Homo sapiens: one gene and its partners. The protein of the gene in region 1 interacts with the protein of each later gene in a pairwise test. Each region holds a gene or a part of one and is shown in the gene's direction. Other genes may lie near its edges.

Region 1 (5,238 bases):
TCTACTCACCACACCCACTCACTGTGGGGGAAGGGCCTGAAACTTGGTGAAAGACTAAGTTAAGAAAAAATAGGTATTACTCCTAGAGGAAGTGGGATCTGGTAAGATTTGCCAAACAACATATTTGTAGAATTTTACTTAGTAAGCTGCTTTGAGATTATTTTATCAGTAAGTGCTAAATAAAGGAAAGGGATTTTTGATTTTTGCTTTTTGAGATGGGGTCTCACTCTGTCGCCCAGGTTGGAGTGCAGTGGCTCAGTCTTGGCTCACTGCAACTTCCACCTCCTGGGTTGAAGAAATTCTCCTGCCTCAGCCTCCCGAGTAGCAGGGACTACAGGTGTGTACCACCAAGCCTGGCTAATTTTTGTAATTTTAGTAGAGACGGGGTTTCACCATGTTGGTCAGGCTGGTCTTGAACTCCTGACCTCAAATGATCCACCCGCCTTGCCTCCCAGAGTGCTGAGATTATAAGCGTGAGCCACTGTGCCTGGCCAAGGAGAGGGATTTTTTTGGGGGGTGTTTGTTATTTTAAAATAGAAATTGATGACCAGAGGGATGAAATGACTTTCCCAGGGTCCAAAGTCTTGGTGCTTGGGCTTGAACCACAACTGCTGATTGCTGGCTTGAAGTTTTTCACAGGGCCCTGTTGACTTAATTACCTTTGGCTATGTGTCCAGCAATACTTTATCTTTGCAGCATTTTGTAATGCAAAGACTGTCCCATCTGCTGTTCAGAATTCTGTGATTCCGCATTCATAGTCTAAGCTCTTATCTCTTTCTTACTTTTTGTTTGTCTATTTACAACAGCCCATAGAGCCAGTTGCATTAACATCCTTTGCCAAATAATGTTATCACTGGAAATATGAGATATGAGACCTCCTAGAAATTCCTCTGAGAGTCAAGCTTAGGTAGGATGACTTTGTGCTTTGTTTTGTCATTTCTGTAAAATAGCTTCCCTTAAAATGAAGAATATCTGACAATAAGTATAAGGAGTGAAGCAAAGTAGTGAATTCTGAGTTAGAAAAAATCAGTTATGTTTTATCTGTGTGATTGCCTTTTTTAGTATTAGTGTTCCACAATCAATTGAAGTATTTACTAAGATTGAGGGAAAGATGCATCGTATTACTTGCTTGGGTAAACCCTTCCCAAGAAGCTGTTGTCTTCTGTTTAATGCATGAGATGTTGAGTAAGCTGTGACTGGTTTGTTATGAGATAGGCCAAAAGTTTTCTTGTTTTCCTTCTTTGTTGTCTGCACTGTAGAGGTAACACACATTGTGGTATGTGTTCTATTAGAGTATGATTTAGAGCTACCACAGTGTGGTAGCTAGTGGCCACATGTGGCTCTTAAGCACTTGAAATGTGGTTAGTCCAAATTTAGATGTATTGTAAGTGTAAAATATACACCAGATATTGAAGACTTAGTATAAAAAAAATCCCACTGACACTTTAAAAAATGATTATTTTTAAATTACAAAAATTGATTGCATGTTGAGATGAAAAGATAGTTTTGATATATTGGGTTAAATAACTATGTTAATGTAAATTATCATTATTATTATTATTATTTTTGAGACAGTCTTAATATTGCCTAGGCTGGAATATGGTGGTGTGATCACAGTTCACTGTAGCCTCAAATTCCTGGGCTCAAGTGATCCTCTCGCCTCAGTCTCCTGAGTGGCTTGGACCACAGGCACACACACCACCATGGCTGGCTAATTTTTAAATTTTTGTGGAGACGGGGTGTTAGTATGTTGTCCAGTGTGGTCTCGAACTCCTGGGCTCAAGTGATCCTCTTGTGTTGGCCTCCAAAAGCACTGGGATTATAGGTGTGAGCCACTGTTCCTGGCCTAAATTAGTTTTTTTAATGTGACTACTAGGAGGTTTAATGTGTGTCTTCTATTAATTTGTGTTGGACAGCACTGAATTAGAGTATAAAATGGCTTGCCAGGATTACAATTTAATATTCTCTCACTTGTACATTATGAAATATAGAGACATATATAGTACACAAAGTACAGTTATGACAGTGTATATGGATTACTTTGGCATATTTAAATCTGTTTGCATTTTAGTAAACTAGCAAGTATTTATACCAACAAGTATTTAAAAACCATATAGGGTTTTAAACAGTTGCTTCTGGGCCGTCCCTGAGACTTAAAAAGTACAGAGCAACTGCCCCACATTTCCACTATACTGATGAGACAAGCAGGTTGAAAAGGAATCCCAAGTGACTGTGGAGTGTGTAGCACGGGCTGGGTTGGGGGAGTGATGAGGATGGGATGGGACACCAAACCACAGGTAGTTCTCCTGGGTAGGTTTCTGACAGGGCTTTGGTCAGCTCCAGGTGTTCTTCCTCTTTCTTGCTAGATGATGCATGTGTGGTATCTGACCCAAGTGTGATTTGCCTCTGAGTTCAGAATTGACTGGAAATCACTAAGTAGGTGGATTCCTGAGGCTGCAAGGGGTTAAAAATATTCATTAAGTTTTGCTGAAAAAATAGAAGGTGTGATGTGAAGCTGCAACTGCTTATAACCTTTGTTTTACGCCCAAGCACAAGCCAGTAGAGTAGTGTGGAGGAAATGTTGCCCTTTAAGATTGATGACTGCTCATTTCCTTGCTCTTCAAAGGTCTTTTTCTCATTTGGATACCCAGCTGGGAATTTCAGTTGTTTTAGAAGTTTGACTGCTAAATAAGATGTATGTGATTTTTTAGCTTTAATATTTTAAAATATCTTTATTATGTTGTTTGTTTGTTAATGTTTGAATTGGGGTAAAAAATTCATTGCATTTTGGATCACAGTTCTGACTTGATTTTTATGGATTTACTACTCAGCATCAAAAGTTACACATCTAACATTGTGAAAATCTGATTTTTTGTTTGGTTAATTGGCGATAATTCTGTAACAAACATTACATTGTATATTGGGAGGGGTTGGTTTTGAAAAGGAGTATATTCATTGGTGATAGATTTTATAGTCATAAAGCAAATAACTGTTTGCATTAGAGCATAATCAGATAATGAAGTGGTTAGTAGAAACCAATAGACTATAGATTACCAAAATTAAGATCTTGTACAACAAAATATAATTAACACCGTAACTTGAATGTAATTTTTACGGGATTGTCTTATGAATGGTAATGATTCTAAGTGGTATGTGAAATGCTGTTACTAGCACATGCCAATTGATAGAATGCTGGAAAAATCACATTTTACATTATATTTTAGATAGGATTTTTGTATGCTTGAGGGTGACTTGGCTTATGTTTTTTTTTCTTTCCTTTTAGAATATGGTTTCTAGTTTTAGGGTTTCTGAACTACAAGTATTACTAGGCTTTGCTGGACGGAATAAAAGTGGACGCAAGCATGACCTCCTGATGAGGGCGCTGCATTTATTGAAGAGCGGCTGCAGCCCTGCGGTTCAGATTAAAATCCGAGAATTGTATAGACGCCGATATCCACGAACTCTTGAAGGACTTTCTGATTTATCCACAATCAAATCATCGGTTTTCAGTTTGGATGGTGGCTCATCACCTGTAGAACCTGACTTGGCCGTGGCTGGAATCCACTCGTTGCCTTCCACTTCAGTTACACCTCACTCACCATCCTCTCCTGTTGGTTCTGTGCTGCTTCAAGATACTAAGCCCACATTTGAGATGCAGCAGCCATCTCCCCCAATTCCTCCTGTCCATCCTGATGTGCAGTTAAAAAATCTGCCCTTTTATGATGTCCTTGATGTTCTCATCAAGCCCACGAGTTTAGGTAAGTGTTTGAGAATTCAGTTTCTTCTGAACAAGATAGTAAATGAAATGAGAGACCTTCAACTATTGATTAATGATGTGCTGTTAATATAGTGAAATTGAGGCATCAATGCCGAATGTTTGAATATACGGATAAAAATTCGGCAACCATGACTGAAATCTAATAGAAGCTTTATTTCATATCATTTGATCTTTCTTCTTCTCCAATTCTTTTATTGTAAAATACACATAATATAAAATGTATCATCTTGATCATTTTAAAGTGTACAGTTGAGTGGTGTTAAGTATGTTGGTAATGTTGTGCAGCCATCACTGCCATCCATCTCCAGAACTCTTTTCATCTTCTGAAGCTGAAACTCTGTACCCATTAAACAATAGCCTTCCTCTCCTCCTCTCCCACTAGCCCCTGGCAGTTACCATTCTACTTCCACTGTCTATGATTTTGACTATTCCAAGTACCTCATGTCGTTGGAATCATACAGTATTTGTCTTGTGACTGGCTTATTTCACTAAATGTAATGTCCTCAAGGTTCTAGCATGCTGTAGTTTATGTTAGAATTTCTTTCCTTTTAAAGGCTAAATAATACAATAGTATACATTTTTAAAGAAAAATAGTAATCTTTTGCTCACTCCACTACTCATCCCTCAATCTCACTTTCAAGAGGCAACAACCTTAATTATTTTAGCTGTTTCTTCTGGTTTTACTTCTATATTTCTGTGTTATAGGATACCACATTTTGCTTATCCATTGGACACTTGGGTTGCTCCCACATTTTAGCTATTGCGAATAATTCTGTGGACACGGGTATACACGTATCTCTTTGAGACCCTGCTTTTCAATTCTTCTGGCTGTATACCCACAAGTGGAATTGCTGGATCACATAGTCATTCTGTTTTTAGTATTTTGAGGCATCACCATACTGTTTTCCGTGGCAGCTGCATTTTACATTCCCTTCAACAGTGCACAAGGGTTCCAGTTTCTCCACATCCTTAACAACACTTTTATTTTCCTTTTTTTTTTATAGTGGCCATTATAATGGGTGTCAGGTGGTATCTTATTGTAGCTTTGATTTGCATGTCTGTAATGATGGTGATATTGTGCATTTTCATGTGCTTTTTGGCCATTTATGTATCTTTCAAGAAATGTATAGCCAAGTCTCTTGCCCATTTTTGAATTGGTTTGTTTTATTGTTGTTGAGTTTTAGGAGTTCTCTGTATATTCTGGATATAATCCCTTATCAGATATATGAATGTGCAAATATTTTCTCCCACTCTGTGGTTTGCCTTTTTTACTCTGTTGATAGTGTCTTTTGATGTACAACTTAACATTTTTTCATGAAATTCCAATTTGTTTATTTTTTGTTGTTGTTGCCTATGCCTTTGGTGTCATATCCAAGAAATCATTGCTAAACTTCATGCTGTGAAGGTTTTGCCCTGTGTTTTCCTTTAAGAATTTTATAGTTTTAGGTCTTACATTTAAG
Region 2 (5,088 bases), on another chromosome or scaffold:
CAACAGAGCCAGGTCTGGCGTGTGGAACCGTCCAGATTCCAGGGCCAGCTCCTCTTCCTCAGCCCCGGGCTGCATCTTAGGACAATGGGCTTATTGAGACTTAACTCACATATAATGCACCCATTTAGAGCATACAATTCCATGGTTTGTAATATATTTCCAGAGTCACGCAGCCATCACTGAAATCAAATTGTAAAATACTTTCATCACCCAAATGAAAACCGCATCCCTCTCAGTGGTCATTCCCCACCCACTGGCACCCACACGTCCCCCTCCTGTCTCTGTGGATGGGCCTTTCCTGAACATTCTGATCACACACTGTGTGACCTTTGTGTCTGGCGTCTCTCACTGAGTGTGATGTCTTCTAGGTACATCCATGCTGTGACTTGTGTCAGAGACTCGCTCCTTTTTTTTATGGCTGATAATATTCTTTTTTTTTTTTTTTGAGACGTAGTCTTGCTCTGTTGCCCAGGCTGGAGTGCAGTGGCACAATCTTGGCTCACTGCAACCTCTGCCTCCCAGTTCATGGGATCCTCCTGCCTCAGCCTCCCATGTAGCTGGGATTACAGGCGTGCACCACCACGCCTGGCTAGTTTTTGTATTTTTAATAGAACTGGAGTTTCACCATGTTGGCCAGGCTGGTCTCGAACTCCTGACCTCAAGTGATCCGCCTGCCTCCCAAAGTGCTGGGATTACAGGCGTGAGCCACTGCGCCCGGCCCATGGCGGATAATATTCTGTTGTAAGGATATATCCCGTCATCGATCCATGCATCATTAGCAGACGTTTGAGTTGTTTTCACTTTTTGGCTATTATGAATCACGCTGCTACCGACGCTTGTGTACACGCTTTTGTTTGAACACCTGTTTTCAGTTGTCTGGAGTATATTCCTAGGAGTGAACTGCTGAATTGCATGGTGATTCCACATTTATTTAACCCTTTGAGGAAATGCCAGTCTGTTTTCCAAAGCAGCTGCATCTGCCTCCTAGACATCTGAAGGATTCAATGAATGTGTATTGAGCATCCACCATGGGCAATGCTGTGAACCAAACAGGCAGGCCACAGGGAGAAGCCGACTTATGGAGGCAAAAAAAAAATCAGAGAAGGCCTGGCTGAGCAAGTGACATTTAAGCGGACTTGAGGAAGAGGAAGTGGGCCGGGCGTGGGGGCTCACGTCTGTAATCCCACCACTTTGGGAGGCCGAGGCGGGTGGATCACGAGGTCAGGAGTTCAAGACCAGCCTGGCCAAGATGGTGAAACCCTGTCTCTACTAAAAATACAAAAATTAGCCGGGCGTGGTGGCAGGCGCGTGTAATCCCAGCTACTCGGGAGGGTGAGGCAGAGAATTGCTTGAACCCGGGAGGCAGAGGTTGCAGTGAGCCGAGATCCAGCCACTGCACTCCACCCTGGACGACAGGGTGAGACTCCGTCTCAAAAACAAAAGAGGAGGTGAGCAGCCCCAACTTGGGCCAGAAGCCTAGACTGCTGCTGGGAGGTCCCTGATCCACCAGAGCGGAGCCTCCTGACCCATCCTCACGAAGTCCTTGCCATCTCCCTTCACCACCATCTTTCCCCAAACACTTCCAGCCCAGCTCCCAACCCCACCCCCTGCCTGACCCACACCCAGTTCTCAGCTTCCCAGCATCCCAGTCTCTCTGTCCTGGATATCGTGTGATGTCCCCGTTGCACAGGGGGGAAAGCCGAGACCCCAGAGGGAGAGCAGCCCCTATGGCCAGAAGCCCTCGGATCCGGACGTCGGGGGCTCTAAACTGAGTAAATACATAGGAAACTTCTCCGCTAGGTTTTGCAGGATGTTAAGAACAGGTCCCACCTTGCCTAGGGCTGGGGACTGCCTCGCAGGACCTTAACCCTAGCAACCCACCTCCGTCCCCATGGCAACCGGGGCGGGGCCCGACCCGGATCCGCCGGTCGCCCCATCCGGCAGCGGCTGGGAGTCTTGCCTTCAGAGAGGGAGGAGGAGTCCGCGCCTCTCCTACTGGCCCTTTAAGAGGCTCCGCCCGGCAAGTCCGCCACTCGCTCCCGATTGGTCCCGAGCGCGGCCGAGCGCAGCCGAACTTGACGCACCGCCCGCAGCCTTCCTTACCAACCTCCCACGCGACTCAGCAACCTCCCCAACCAATCGCCGGCCGGCGCGCCGATCGGTATCTGCATGGGCTCGCCCGGGGGGAAGGTCTCACCCAATGGGACCGTTCGCCGAGGCCTTCATTAGCATGCCGGGGGCGGGGAGGGGCGGGGCGGCCGACGGGGGCGGGCTGCGGGCGGTTGGTTGGAGCGTCGCGCAGTCGGGAGGTCCGGGAAAGTTTCTTTGGAGGTGAAAACAGCCGCGGAACTCCGGGCCCTGAGAGGGGGCGGGGGTGCAGGGGTCCCAGGGCCGGGCCGGGGTCTTTCCTGGCCCGGGGGAAACCGGCCCAGGCCTCCCGGGGGGGGCAATCGCCCAACAAAGGATTCTTGGGGCGCCCGCCCTCGAGGACTTCCCTGCCCCTGGATCCGGCCCCCCCAGCGCTCCGGGCCCGGCATCCCGGGGCTCTCCATCGCGGGGTACCCCAGTTCGCGGTCTGCCATCGGGCAGCCCGGGCGCTACTCACCTCCGCCCGCGTCCGTGTTCCAGGTCCGGCCCGGAGCGGCCATGTCCCACGGCCCCAAGCAGCCCGGCGCGGCCGCCGCGTGAGTGCACTGATCCCCTCCCCACGCCCTCGCTACTTTCCCGGCTGCAGCCCTAGCTCCTGAACCCCTGACCCAGTCCCTCCCGCCGGAGTCTTGACTCCCCCACCTGGGTCAGGGGGCTTCTCCCTCCACCCAATTCTGCACCCCCCACCTCGGCCTCCAGTCCCTCCCAGGAGCCCCGCTTGTCCCACCTTCCCCGGATACTGACCCCATCAGACCCTGCCTCCTCGGGCTCATGCACTCTCGCTGCAGCCCCGCCGTCGGGGGTCAAAACGCCCTGGGGTGGGCTTTTGGGGGAGGGGAGATTCTTGGGACGGGGCTGACCGCGGTATCCTTGGCTCCAGGCCGGCGGGCGGCAAGGCTCCGGGCCAGCATGGGGGCTTCGTGGTGACTGTCAAGCAAGAGCGCGGCGAGGGTCCACGCGCGGGCGAGAAGGGGTCCCACGAGGAGGAGGTGAGAGTCCCTGCGCTGAGCTGGGGGAGGCCCCGGGCTCCCGCCCCAGCCTCGAAGCCCCGCCCCAGGCTGGATTTGAATTGCTTGTGGCTCCGCCCACAGCCCATTTTCCTCTGGAAGCTGAGACCCCGCCCCGTGCCAGCTGCCACGCCCCTGACAGGTCCTCTGCCACTCTAAGTCCAGGCCCCGCCCACCGCACAATGCCAGCTCTGCCCACTCTAAGGTCCCGCCCACTTCCACTCCTTGGGGGCGGCACCCTCCCCTTGGTCCTGTGGGCCCGTTCTCCAGCAGAAAACCACGCCCACCAAGCAGAGGCCACGCCCACAACCGAAGTCAACGCCAACCCTGTACTCAAACCTCGGCCCATAGTTCCTCAGATCCCCTCACCCCTGGCCAGGGATCCCTCTAACCCACCGTGTCCCGACTGCTGACCGGGCCCTACCTCCATCTTTTCCGGGTTCTTCCTCCCAGCTAGGCCCCGCCCCCATCCCCGCCCATACGCGTTAGGCCCCGCCCATGCCCCTCTGAGCCCTGCCCCAGTACGCCAGGCCCCCCTCCCAACGACGCAGCCCGGTTCTGCAGCCGGTGAAGAAACGCGGCTGGCCCAAGGGCAAGAAGCGGAAGAAGATTCTGCCGAATGGGCCCAAGGCACCGGTCACGGGCTACGTGCGCTTCCTGAACGAGCGGCGCGAGCAGATCCGCACGCGCCACCCGGATCTGCCCTTTCCCGAGATCACCAAGATGCTGGGCGCCGAGTGGAGCAAGCTGCAGCCAACGGAAAAGCAGGTGGGCGGGGCGGGGCGCCGAGCAGGGCTGGCGGGGTCCACGGACTACCCCCCAGTAGCCCCGACCCCCAAAGGATTCCACGTGCAGGGTTTTTCCTTCTTCCTGGAGAAATGCCCACCCATAACCAACTTTTTTTTTTTTTTTTTTTGTGAGATGGAGTCTTGCTCTGTTGCCCAGGCTGGAGTGCAGTGGCGTGATCTCAGCTCACTGCAACCTCCGCCTCCCGGCTTCAAGCAATTCTCCTGTCTCAGCCTCTCAGGTAGCTGGGATTACAGGCGCGTGCTACCATGCCCTGCTAATTTTTGTATTTTTAGTAGAAATGGGGTTTCGCCATGTTGGCCAGGCTGGTCTCGAACTCTTGACCTCAAATGATCCGCCCACCTCAGCCTCCCAAAGTATTGATATTAAAGGCGTTAGCCACCGTGGCCAGCCCATGACCAGCTTTTGGGGGCGCGGCTAGCAAGAGGCAAGACAGATTGAAAACTGGATGACCAACAAAGATATGTCTAAGAAGTCAGGATGGGGCCTGGATTTTTTGCGAAACCCGATTTTCATATCCTGTTAGTTTAAAAATTGCAAAAACATCACGGAAATGTAACAAAAGCCATCACTGCTTTGCATCCCTGTAAGTGAGATTTCAAAGAGAGAAACGGGTGCGGGAGGGAGTCCAGGCATCCGCATACGCTGGAGGTTGGGTTCCTGCCCATGACTCTGGCGTCCGGGAGTGGTTTGTCAGGGCTGGAGGTGGGGAAGAGTCCGGGGCATGGGAAGTGAGGTGGGAGCTCGGAGGTCCCTGAGCAACAGGCTGAGGAGCCGGTTCTGTCTGCCTGGAGGGAATAGGGAGCTATAGAAGGTTCAGGAGAGGGGAGGGTGCTGTGAAAGCAGAGTGATAAAGACTGGATCCTGGCGTTGGAGGCTTCCCCTGCTTCAAGCCTTCTGGTGCTGCCCCCCAGCGGTACCTGGATGAGGCCGAGAGAGAGAAGCAGCAGTACATGAAGGAGCTGCGGGCGTACCAGCAGTCTGAAGCCTATAAGATGTGCACGGAGAAGATCCAGGAGAAGAAGATCAAGAAAGGTGGGAGGGGTCGGGCGCGGTGGCTCACGCCTGTCATCCCAGCACTTTGGGAGGCCGAGGCGGGTGTATCACCTGAGGTCAGACCAGCCTG
Region 3 (4,458 bases), on another chromosome or scaffold:
TTGTTACTTTATTTATTTTCTTTTATTTTTATTTTTATTTTTATTTTTTGAGACGGAGTCTCGCTCTGTTGCCAGGCTGGAGTGCAGTGGCGCGATCTCGGCTCACTGACCTCCCCCTCCCGGGTTCAAGCGATTCTCCTGCCTCAGCTTCCCGAGTAGCTGGGACTACAGGTGTGCGCCACCATGCTTGGCTAATTTTTGTAGTTTTAGTAGAAACGGGGTTTCACCATGTTGGCCAGGATGGTCTCGATCTCTTGACCTCATGATCCGCCCGCCTCGGCCTCCCAAAGTGCTGGGATTACAGGCGTGAGCCACCGCGCCCGGCCTATTTGTTACAATTAATGAGCCAATTCCACGATCACATAACCATTGTTGACATTAACCAAAGTCCGCGCTTGAGTCAGATTTGCAGAGTTTTCTCCTCACTGCCCTTTTCTATTCCAGGATCCCATGACAGATTCTGTTGTCACGTCTCCTTACAGAGTTTGAGCGGTGCTGAACTGTCAGCACCATCTGTCCGGTGAGTGACGGCTGTGGACTTAGTCTTCCTGTTGAATGTGGGGAATCAAAGGAGGGTGAAGCGGGGCTGAGCCCAGTCCTGGGCCCTCTGAAGAAGGCAAGGTGGGAGGTGGTCGTGGGTTCCTTGTCCCCCCAGAGGAGGGGCAGCAGATGGGACCTCGCCTGGCTTTCTTTTTGCTTTCTTCTTTTTTTTTTCTGTCTCATCTATTTCAGGTGCGTGTGTGTGTTTTTAATCCTGGGTAAAATACACGTAACACTGATCACTGTAACCATTTCTAAGTGTGAGGCAACCACCGTGACTATCTCCACCCAGAACGTTTTCATCATCCCCAGCACAACCTCTGCACCCATTAAACAATCACCCTCCCTTCCCCACTCACCTCAGCCGCTGGCCGCTTCTATTCTACTTTCTATCTCTATGAATTTGCCAGACATAGAGGGGCGTTCGAGAGTCCCAGGTGCCTCATCGTGGAAGTGGAATCACACAGTATTTGTCCTTTTGTGTCTGGCTCATTTCGCTTGGCATAATGTCCTGAAGGTTCGTCCGTGTTGTAGCGTGTGCCAGAATTCATTTCTCTTAGGGCTGAGTAATATTCTAGTGTGTGTATGAGCCTACTGTGTGTGTTCATCCGTCTGCGGATACGTGGGCTGCCTCCACGTTTTGACTTGTGAATAGTGCAGCAGTGAGCATGGGTGTGCAAGCATCTGTTTTGTTGTTGTTGTTTTATTTTTTAAATAGAGATGGGGCTGGAGCCCAGGCTGGTCTTGACCTCGTGGACTCAAGTGGTCCTCCTGCCTCAGCCTCCCGAAGTGCTGGGATGAGAGGCGTGAGCCACCGCACCCGGCCCAAGCAACTGTCTGCTTCCATTTTTTTTGGTATATGCCTATAGGAGAGAAATGGCCAAGCGGCTGCCCACAGGGCTGGTGCCTGTGTTTTTGTGCAGTTCTTCCTGGGCTTCTCTGAGGGAGCAGAGCACGCCTCCCAGAGGGGGCCGGGTCAGCAGGGTTCGCTGGAACCCCACAGCATCCGAGCCTGAACCGACGCCTCTCTCCTTGCTTTGCCAGGTCCCAGCATGCCTTCTGAGACCCCCCAGGCAGAAGTGGGGCCCACAGGCTGCCCCCACCGCTCAGGGCCACACTCGGCGAAGGGGAGCCTGGAGAAGGGGTCCCCAGAGGATAAGGAAGCCAAGGAGCCCCTGTGGATCCGGCCCGATGCTCCGAGCAGGTGCACCTGGCAGCTGGGCCGGCCTGCCTCCGAGTCCCCACATCACCACACTGCCCCGTAAGTCCTGCTTTTGATCACAAGAGGGCTGATCCATAACCTGGAGGGCAGGAGTTTGTTACCTGGACACCACACAGCCAGGAGGACATGAGGTGTAACCCCCTGTAGTCACTCTGGATTGAGGAGCTGGGGGTGGGGCCATGCCGTGTAGATGAGGCTCTGAGAGGCCAAGGCCTCCTTACGCTGCAGCCCAGCGCCTAGGCCAGTGCCTGGCAAGACAGTGGATGCTCAGCAAGTAGTTCCAGAATAAATAAATAAATGTGCCCAGGTCACATGCTTTGCCCGGTCTGTGGCTGCGTGTGCACATTCACTGGAGGTGAGGGACCAGGATCCTGCCTGCGCTCTCTTATTTATTTATTTTTTATTTTTTTGAGACACGAGCTGGAGTGCAGTGGTGCAATCATGGCTTACTGCAGCCTCAATCTCCCCCAGTTAAGGGATCCTCCCACCTCAGCCTCCCAAGTAGCTGGGACTATGGGTGCCCACCATCACACCCAGCTGATTTTTGTATTTTTAGGAGATGGGGTTTCACCCAGGCTGGTCTTGAATGCCTAGGTTCAAGTGATCCGCCTGCCTTGGCCTCCCACAAGTGTTGGGATTACAGGTGTGAGCCACCGCGCCCGGCCCAGCCTGCACTTTTCCGTTAACTCTAGGTCATGAAGACTTCCCGTAGGCATTACATATTTTTCCATAAGGGCTGTTTTTCTGGTGGCACAGACTGTTCGGTGAAGAAGCCATCATTTTGTAAGCCCTCTACGGGGTAGATAGATGTTTGCAGTTACCTCATTTTACATAACTGCAATAGAAGATACGACACATTCATTTAGCCAACAAGTCTTTCCTCAGCGCCATGTGCATTTCGTGCCCTGCTCAAGGCGCAGAAGATCTATCAGTGGAAAAGACAAATCAACAAAAATCCCTACCCCAGCATGAAACTGAAATCAAGCTCACTAAGCCTTAGGATTATCTTTATTTCCTTAGTGTAATCTTGGAGGAGAACAAATAGATCAAAGAATGTGCTTCTTAGATGTTTGATTCCTTTTTTTTTTTTTTTTTTTTTGAGACAGAGTCTCGCTGTCACCCAGGCTGGAGTGCAGTGGCGCGATCTCAGCTCACTGCAACTTCTGCCTCCCGGGAAGCGATTCTCCTACCTCAGCCTCCCTAGTAGCTGGGATTACAGGCATGTGCCAGCACGCCCGGTGGATTTTTATGCTTTTAATAGAGATGGGGTTTCACCATGTTGTCCAGGCTGGTCTTGAACTCCTGACCTCAGTTGATCCACTCGCCTCGGCCTCCCAAAGTGCTGGGATTATGATTCCTATTTTGTGTCCACCACTACCAGCGTTTATGGTTGTTGATTTACAGTTCAGAATGGGTGGGGGTGGCTGGGTGTACTCTCAGTGCAGCAATAGAAAGAAAGAAGTGACAGTGGACAAACCCAGAAGGTCTGAGTGTCAAACATACTCAGTGCTGGGAGCTCAGGAGGCCAAGCAGATGTGTGGGCAGCCAGGAGGATGGGCTCTTGCTGCCAAGACAAACCCAAGAGAGCAGTGGGTGAGAGGCCCGGTGAGGTCGGGAGTGGCTGCTGGAGGGTGGAGTGGGCAGGGAAGACAGGCCCGATTCCTGAGGGCTCCGTGAGCTCCTAACTCTAGGGCATGAGAAGGAGACGATGCCCTCCAGGTTGTAAATGGCGTTGCACCTGCACCTCACATACTGGCCTCATTCATCCTCCGAAGACACCCCCATCCTGAGACGCAGAGCCGACGCCGCTTGTCTCCAGTCGGAGGGCCCCTGAGAATAGTGGCGTTGCGGGGAGGTGCTGCAGAGGTGGGTCAGGAGTTGGAGGTTCATTCTAGGACAGTGGCGTGTCCTCCCAGGAGCCTCTTGGGCTGTGGAAGTGGGAGTCCTTGAGATAAGGGGCTCCAGGGCTATCCCTGCAAGTCACATCCTTTTTCTTGCTAAGCGCTCTGGGCCTGGCCCTGATCACCTCTGCAAACTTCTCAGGTAACTTCACAGCCACCGAGGCCCAGTGCTGAGTCAGCACACCTGCTGCAGGGAGGCGGGACTCTTCCCGCCTGGCTGGCCAGATGCCCGAACTGAATTAATGAACTAATCCCCGGCGCTGTCACCCTGGGGCTTGGCTTTCCACCTGGCCCTGGCTCTCTACACCTGCCAAGCCTGGTTCCCTTCTGCCGAGAACTGCTTCTGAGGGAACCTCCCTGGCCCCTGTACAGTTTGGGGACCTGGCAGGACTGCCTTCTGCTCCCCGGGAAGGGTGCGATTGGATTCCAGCTGCTCTTGTTGGCGCCTGTTTTGGCCTTCAGGGTAGCTCTCCCTGCAAATGTGGCACTCCCTCCATGGCACAGGACCTCTGGGAGCTGGGTTCACCCCAGGTCTAAGGGTCGCCTCCTGGGGGGCAGGACCCAAGGACCCTGGCTGTTCAGCAGGTGACTGTGCTGAAGAGGGGGCCCAGGGTTAGCCACGGGGTGTCATCGGAGCTGCAAGGCCCAGGGAGGGGTTGCGGGTCTGGAGACCGCTGTAAGCCATGCGTGTTCCCAGATGAGTATGTGGTGAGCTTGGTGCAGATAGATAGGGGGTGTCATCAGCATCTCCCTGGGGGAGGATGGCAGGGGCATGAGGGCCATTTAGGAAACCAC
Region 4 (4,458 bases), on another chromosome or scaffold:
ATAATATGGTCACCCTGACAAATGAAACTGTAGTGTTAGGAATTATTGAAGTATGGAAAGATTGTAGAACTAAATGAAAAAAATAGAGAATATCATGTTAAAATACTGATTGAGATAGAGTAATATTGCCTTTTGGAAACTGTCTTTATTAAATTGGTCTTTATGGTACTCCATGGAAGAAATACAGTATAATAGAAATAAGAAAAATTGTTGCAGCTGAAAGACTTGAGCAGCTTGAAGAACTATCTGTTTAGAAGAAAGCAATATATAAAATACCTATCTGAAAGAAGGTATTTTGTGATAAGTGGCAGTTATTCATTGGTTCCATCAAAGAAGAAATATTAGAAAAGCTTGTGAAAAATAGAGAGAGAAGGTCCATAGAACCTGTTTTTATTCTTTTTAAAAATGTTTCTTTAGAGAGGCTTGCTGTCCTCCAAAGGTTTTTTTTTCTTAATGCCCTTTGTGCAGTTTTCTTTGCATGTTTAATAGAAATATAGTATCAAAATTTAAAGAATTAATATTTTTGTACATGTACTGTTACTTCAAGTTAATGAATTTGAGATTTCATTCCATTACTTGCCATATATGTAACAAAGAAAGTGTCAAATCTTTTTTTCAAATACTTGGATTAGATAACCATTTTCTTTTCCAAAGACAGTCATTGGATACACTGCTCACAGCAGTTTGAAATATTAAAACCGTAGGTCACAATTCTGGATTCCATCTGACTGAAATTAGATTATCCACAGAGATGTTATACATAATACAGAAGTGTCTTTTCATTCTTTCATCTACTTTACTTTGTAAAATCAGGCTAATGTTTTGCAACTGTTGCTTTCCTTGTTTGTCGTTTTGGTGGTGGTTTGTTTTTGTTGTTGTTTTTGCCGTAGGGTTGAGGATTAAAGAAAGTATCTTAAGAACCTGAATGGTTTTTCACCTTACTGCTTTGCTGTCTCTATTTCATAGCCTTCACAGGTATTCAAATGAGAATACCCTTTACGTGACTTTTCATTATTTAAGCAAAAGTTTAGAGTGTCTACTATATGCCAGTCACTGTTCTCAGGACTTTGAATACAGTAAATACGGCCAAATATTCATATTCTACTGTAGTTTACTCTCTAATTTACAAATTAAAACTAGAATTTTGCTCCCTTGGTATTCCTAAATAAGATCTATGTTATGATCGTTGTTCAGACTGGGTAAAGAAGCAGCCCTAAACTTGATCTCTCCTGGTCTTAATCTCTAAGCCATTCTAAACCCAGATTTGAATGTTTCAGCCTAATTTTTCTCCAGACCATAGAAGCCCCTGTGTTAAATATGCAGTCCCTTTCATTGATACATGTATCATTTTCCTACCATTCTAGCTTCTTTTGTATTGTGAAAACAAATGAGAGTGAACAGTGGGGAAAATATGGGATCAGATAGGCCCAAATTCAGCACTGGTCTCTGCATTTTACTGGCTGAGCTTACTAGCTTGGTAACCATGAGCAATTTATTTGACCTCCCTAAGCCTCAGTTTTCCTAAATCCAAATGGGGTTGTTTGGTGGAATCAGAATGTTGTATGTAAATCTCCTGGTCCAATGCCTGGTGCCAGAAGCTTCATTAATGCAATTATCTTACCCCCAATCTTGCTTCTGCTACTCTGGCTATTGTGATTTGCCCACATGTCTGTTTTAAGCTTTACATTTTCCCCACAGTATGGGATGCAGTGGTAGACTGACTGAGCTTCAGCCTTGTCCCCCTATCAGCATGCTCACACAGTTGTCAAGATTTAATTTTTTTTCCTTGTGGGAAGGAGAAATCACTAATTTCCATGATTAGAAGATATACAAAATAGAAAAGTTTCAAGAAAAGGAATCTTAATCTTGGCACAAATCACTAAGGTAATTTGAATTGTTACAGGCAGACTTTCAACTCATTCTCCTAAACTTATTTAAATACGAAAACCAAAAATGACCTTTCACACTATGATCATACCTCACATTATTCATCTACACATCCAAACGGGATCGCCTCTGGGGGGAAAAAAATCTGTACTGCACCCAGCATTAATATTTTTTTTTGCTCATGCTATTTTCTGCCTGAAACACTCTTTTTTCCTAGGAATCCCCATCTATCAAAATGCCACTTTCTTTGAGGTCGTTTCTCAAGTACCACATTTAAGAAATATTTTCTGATATCCATCCTCTTCTACACTCTCCCAAACTGTACACGTTCTGTCCATTAACTCTCCAGAGCATTATACCTTTCTTACAGCACTTACTGTCCAGTGCTCCTCTTGTTTGTTTTTATTGCGTTGTTGTAGGTAGAGTTTATGCCTTCCCTAAAAGGCTGCAGACTAGGTCTTATTCCACTCTGTGCTGTCATACCTGGCACAAGACCATTCACATCATAGGTATTCAGTAAATATTTGTGGACGTGAGCTGGCTCTTGGAGTATGACAAAACTGATCAATAACTTTTGTCCACAATTATGCCCAGCATCAGCACAATGGCTATCATACATTAGACACTCAAATATCTATAAAATGAAAGAGTGAATAGTAAGTCATCATTCTCTCATTTGGGAGCTTCTTAGGGTGTCAGATAAGCATATATTAAGCACCTCCTATATAACTGGAGCTGTAAGAACTGATCTCTGCTCCTCAATTTAATTGGAAAAAAGTAAATTGTTACTAATATCTGCAGACTTTGAAGATGGTAGGTGTTTGAGTAGGGATGGCATGGAGAGCTTAATATAGAATTGTTTGCATTGTGAGAGATACCCTCTGCTACCTGAACTCAGAAACCAAATAGATTTTTATATCAAATATTTGGACACTTAACTTGTATTTCCACTCCTAGGTATATATCCAAGAGAACTTAAAACATGTTCACACAAAAACTTGCACACAAATATTTGTAGCAGCCTTATTTGTAAAAGGCAAACTCAAATGTCCATTAATTATTGGATGACTAAACAAAATGCGATATAGCCATACAATGGAATATTATTCAGCAACAAAGAGAAACAAAGTAGCAATACCTGCTGTAACATGGATAAAACTTGAAAATATTAAAGTGAAAGAAGTCACATACAAAAGGCAACCTATTATGTGATTCCATTTATTTAAGATGTCTAGATTAGGCAAAACTAATAGAGACAGAAAGTACATTAGTGGATGGGAATGGGAGTGACTGCTAGTATGGAGTTTCCTTTGGAAGTGATGAAAATGTGCCAGAATTAGATAGTGGTGGTGGTTGCATAACCTTATATACTAAAATATCTTGTATACTAATATACAGTTGACACCTGAACAATGAGGGGGTTCGGGGTGCTAACCCCTGTGTTGTCAAAAATCCATGTATAACTTCTGACTCCCCAAAAAGTTAACTACGTAAATAGCTTACTGCTGACTGGAAGCCTTACCAATAGCATAAATAGTTGATTAACACATGTTTTATATGTTACATGTACTATGTACTGTATTCTTACAATAAGCTAGAGAAAGAAAATGTTACTAAGAAAATGATAAGGAAGAAAAAATATGTTTACTATTTATTATTCGTTAAGTGGAAGTGGATTATCATAAAGGTATTCATCCTTGTCATCTTCACATTGAGTAGGCTGAGAAGGAGGAAGAGGAAAGGTTGGTCTTACTGTCTCAAGTGGTGGAGGCAGAAGAAAATCAGCATATAAGTAGACTCATGCAGTTCAACCCATGTTGTTCAAGGGTCAACTGTACAAAAAAAATCCTGAAATATACACTAAAGGGGTCAGTTTTATGGTATGTGAATTATATCTAAAAGAGAGAGATACTTAGACTTGAAGAATAGAGAATTTTGAATGGAGCCAGAAGAAAGAAGCAAGAGGTGTGAAAGCAAGGAAATGATCATTCTTTCTCAGATCCTAGAGAGAAATATAAGCAGCTAGGTACAGGGCTAAAGGTATGTTAAGGATCAGGTGAGGATGGATATGAGGATAGCTTCTGGGTTTTTGTCTTAATGTAGCAGGGATTTTGGTAAATACTTAGACTACAGAGGTATTAACAAAGGAGAAAAACATCTTATGACCTTGAAGGAAGCTTCAGATTTCTTCTTGATTAGGTCAAGGATGTGGTATATGGTCTTTTTGGTTTCTGTGTTACGGTCAGCTGAGTTTAAAGAGTGGGAGTATTCTAAGGTAAGGAGTCTAGTAGCAATCAAAACAAAGTTACTGGGGAAGATGGGAGAATAGAGACTAGACAAAGATGTTAGAATTTGATTCTAAAGCTCTCCTCAGGTAATAAAAATAGATAAATCTTAATGAGAAGGAACCAAGGGCAGTGATTTGGAGAAGTCAGTACAAATAAAGGTATTCATTTGAAGAAATATTTGAGTGCCTTTTATGTGCCAGGCACTATTAAATAAAACTATAGCTATTTTCCTTATTTGACTTTTTTTCTGAAGATAAAATCTTATGAGTGTGATTAATGGTTC

Evidence for each region. Proteins that work in one complex are often made in the same cells at the same time.
Region 2: the proteins of PIAS2 (region 1) and HMG20B interact in binary tests that used the Homo sapiens proteins (3 or more experiments, as listed by UniProt).
Region 3: the proteins of PIAS2 (region 1) and CBS interact in binary tests that used the Homo sapiens proteins (3 or more experiments, as listed by UniProt).
Region 4: the proteins of PIAS2 (region 1) and HMG20A interact in binary tests that used the Homo sapiens proteins (3 or more experiments, as listed by UniProt).

Annotation. Positions count from the first base shown.
Region 1 is NC_000018.10:46,889,100-46,894,337, reverse strand, and holds part of PIAS2 (E3 SUMO-protein ligase PIAS2), read left to right. Parts: intron 1-806; exon of another isoform or gene 807-907; intron 908-3,283; coding exon 3,284-3,758; intron 3,759-5,238. UniProt on the Homo sapiens protein: Functions as an E3-type small ubiquitin-like modifier (SUMO) ligase, stabilizing the interaction between UBE2I and the substrate, and as a SUMO-tethering factor.
Region 2 is NC_000019.10:3,570,664-3,575,751, forward strand, and holds the start of HMG20B (SWI/SNF-related matrix-associated actin-dependent regulator of chromatin subfamily E member 1-related), read left to right. Parts: upstream 1-2,280; 5' UTR 2,281-2,331; exon of another isoform or gene 2,332-2,628; 5' UTR 2,629-2,646; coding exon 2,647-2,684; exon of another isoform or gene 2,685-3,028; coding exon 3,029-3,137; exon of another isoform or gene 3,138-3,154; intron 3,155-3,719; coding exon 3,720-3,923; intron 3,924-4,876; coding exon 4,877-4,997; intron 4,998-5,088. UniProt on the Homo sapiens protein: Required for correct progression through G2 phase of the cell cycle and entry into mitosis. Required for RCOR1/CoREST mediated repression of neuronal specific gene promoters.
Region 3 is NC_000021.9:43,069,328-43,073,785, reverse strand, and holds part of CBS (cystathionine beta-synthase), read left to right. Parts: intron 1-444; 5' UTR 445-520; intron 521-1,584; 5' UTR 1,585-1,592; coding exon 1,593-1,801; intron 1,802-4,458. UniProt on the Homo sapiens protein: Hydro-lyase catalyzing the first step of the transsulfuration pathway, where the hydroxyl group of L-serine is displaced by L-homocysteine in a beta-replacement reaction to form L-cystathionine, the precursor of L-cysteine.
Region 4 is NC_000015.10:77,422,938-77,427,395, forward strand, and holds part of HMG20A (high mobility group protein 20A), read left to right. Parts: intron 1-4,458. UniProt on the Homo sapiens protein: Plays a role in neuronal differentiation as chromatin-associated protein. Acts as inhibitor of HMG20B. Overcomes the repressive effects of the neuronal silencer REST and induces the activation of neuronal-specific genes.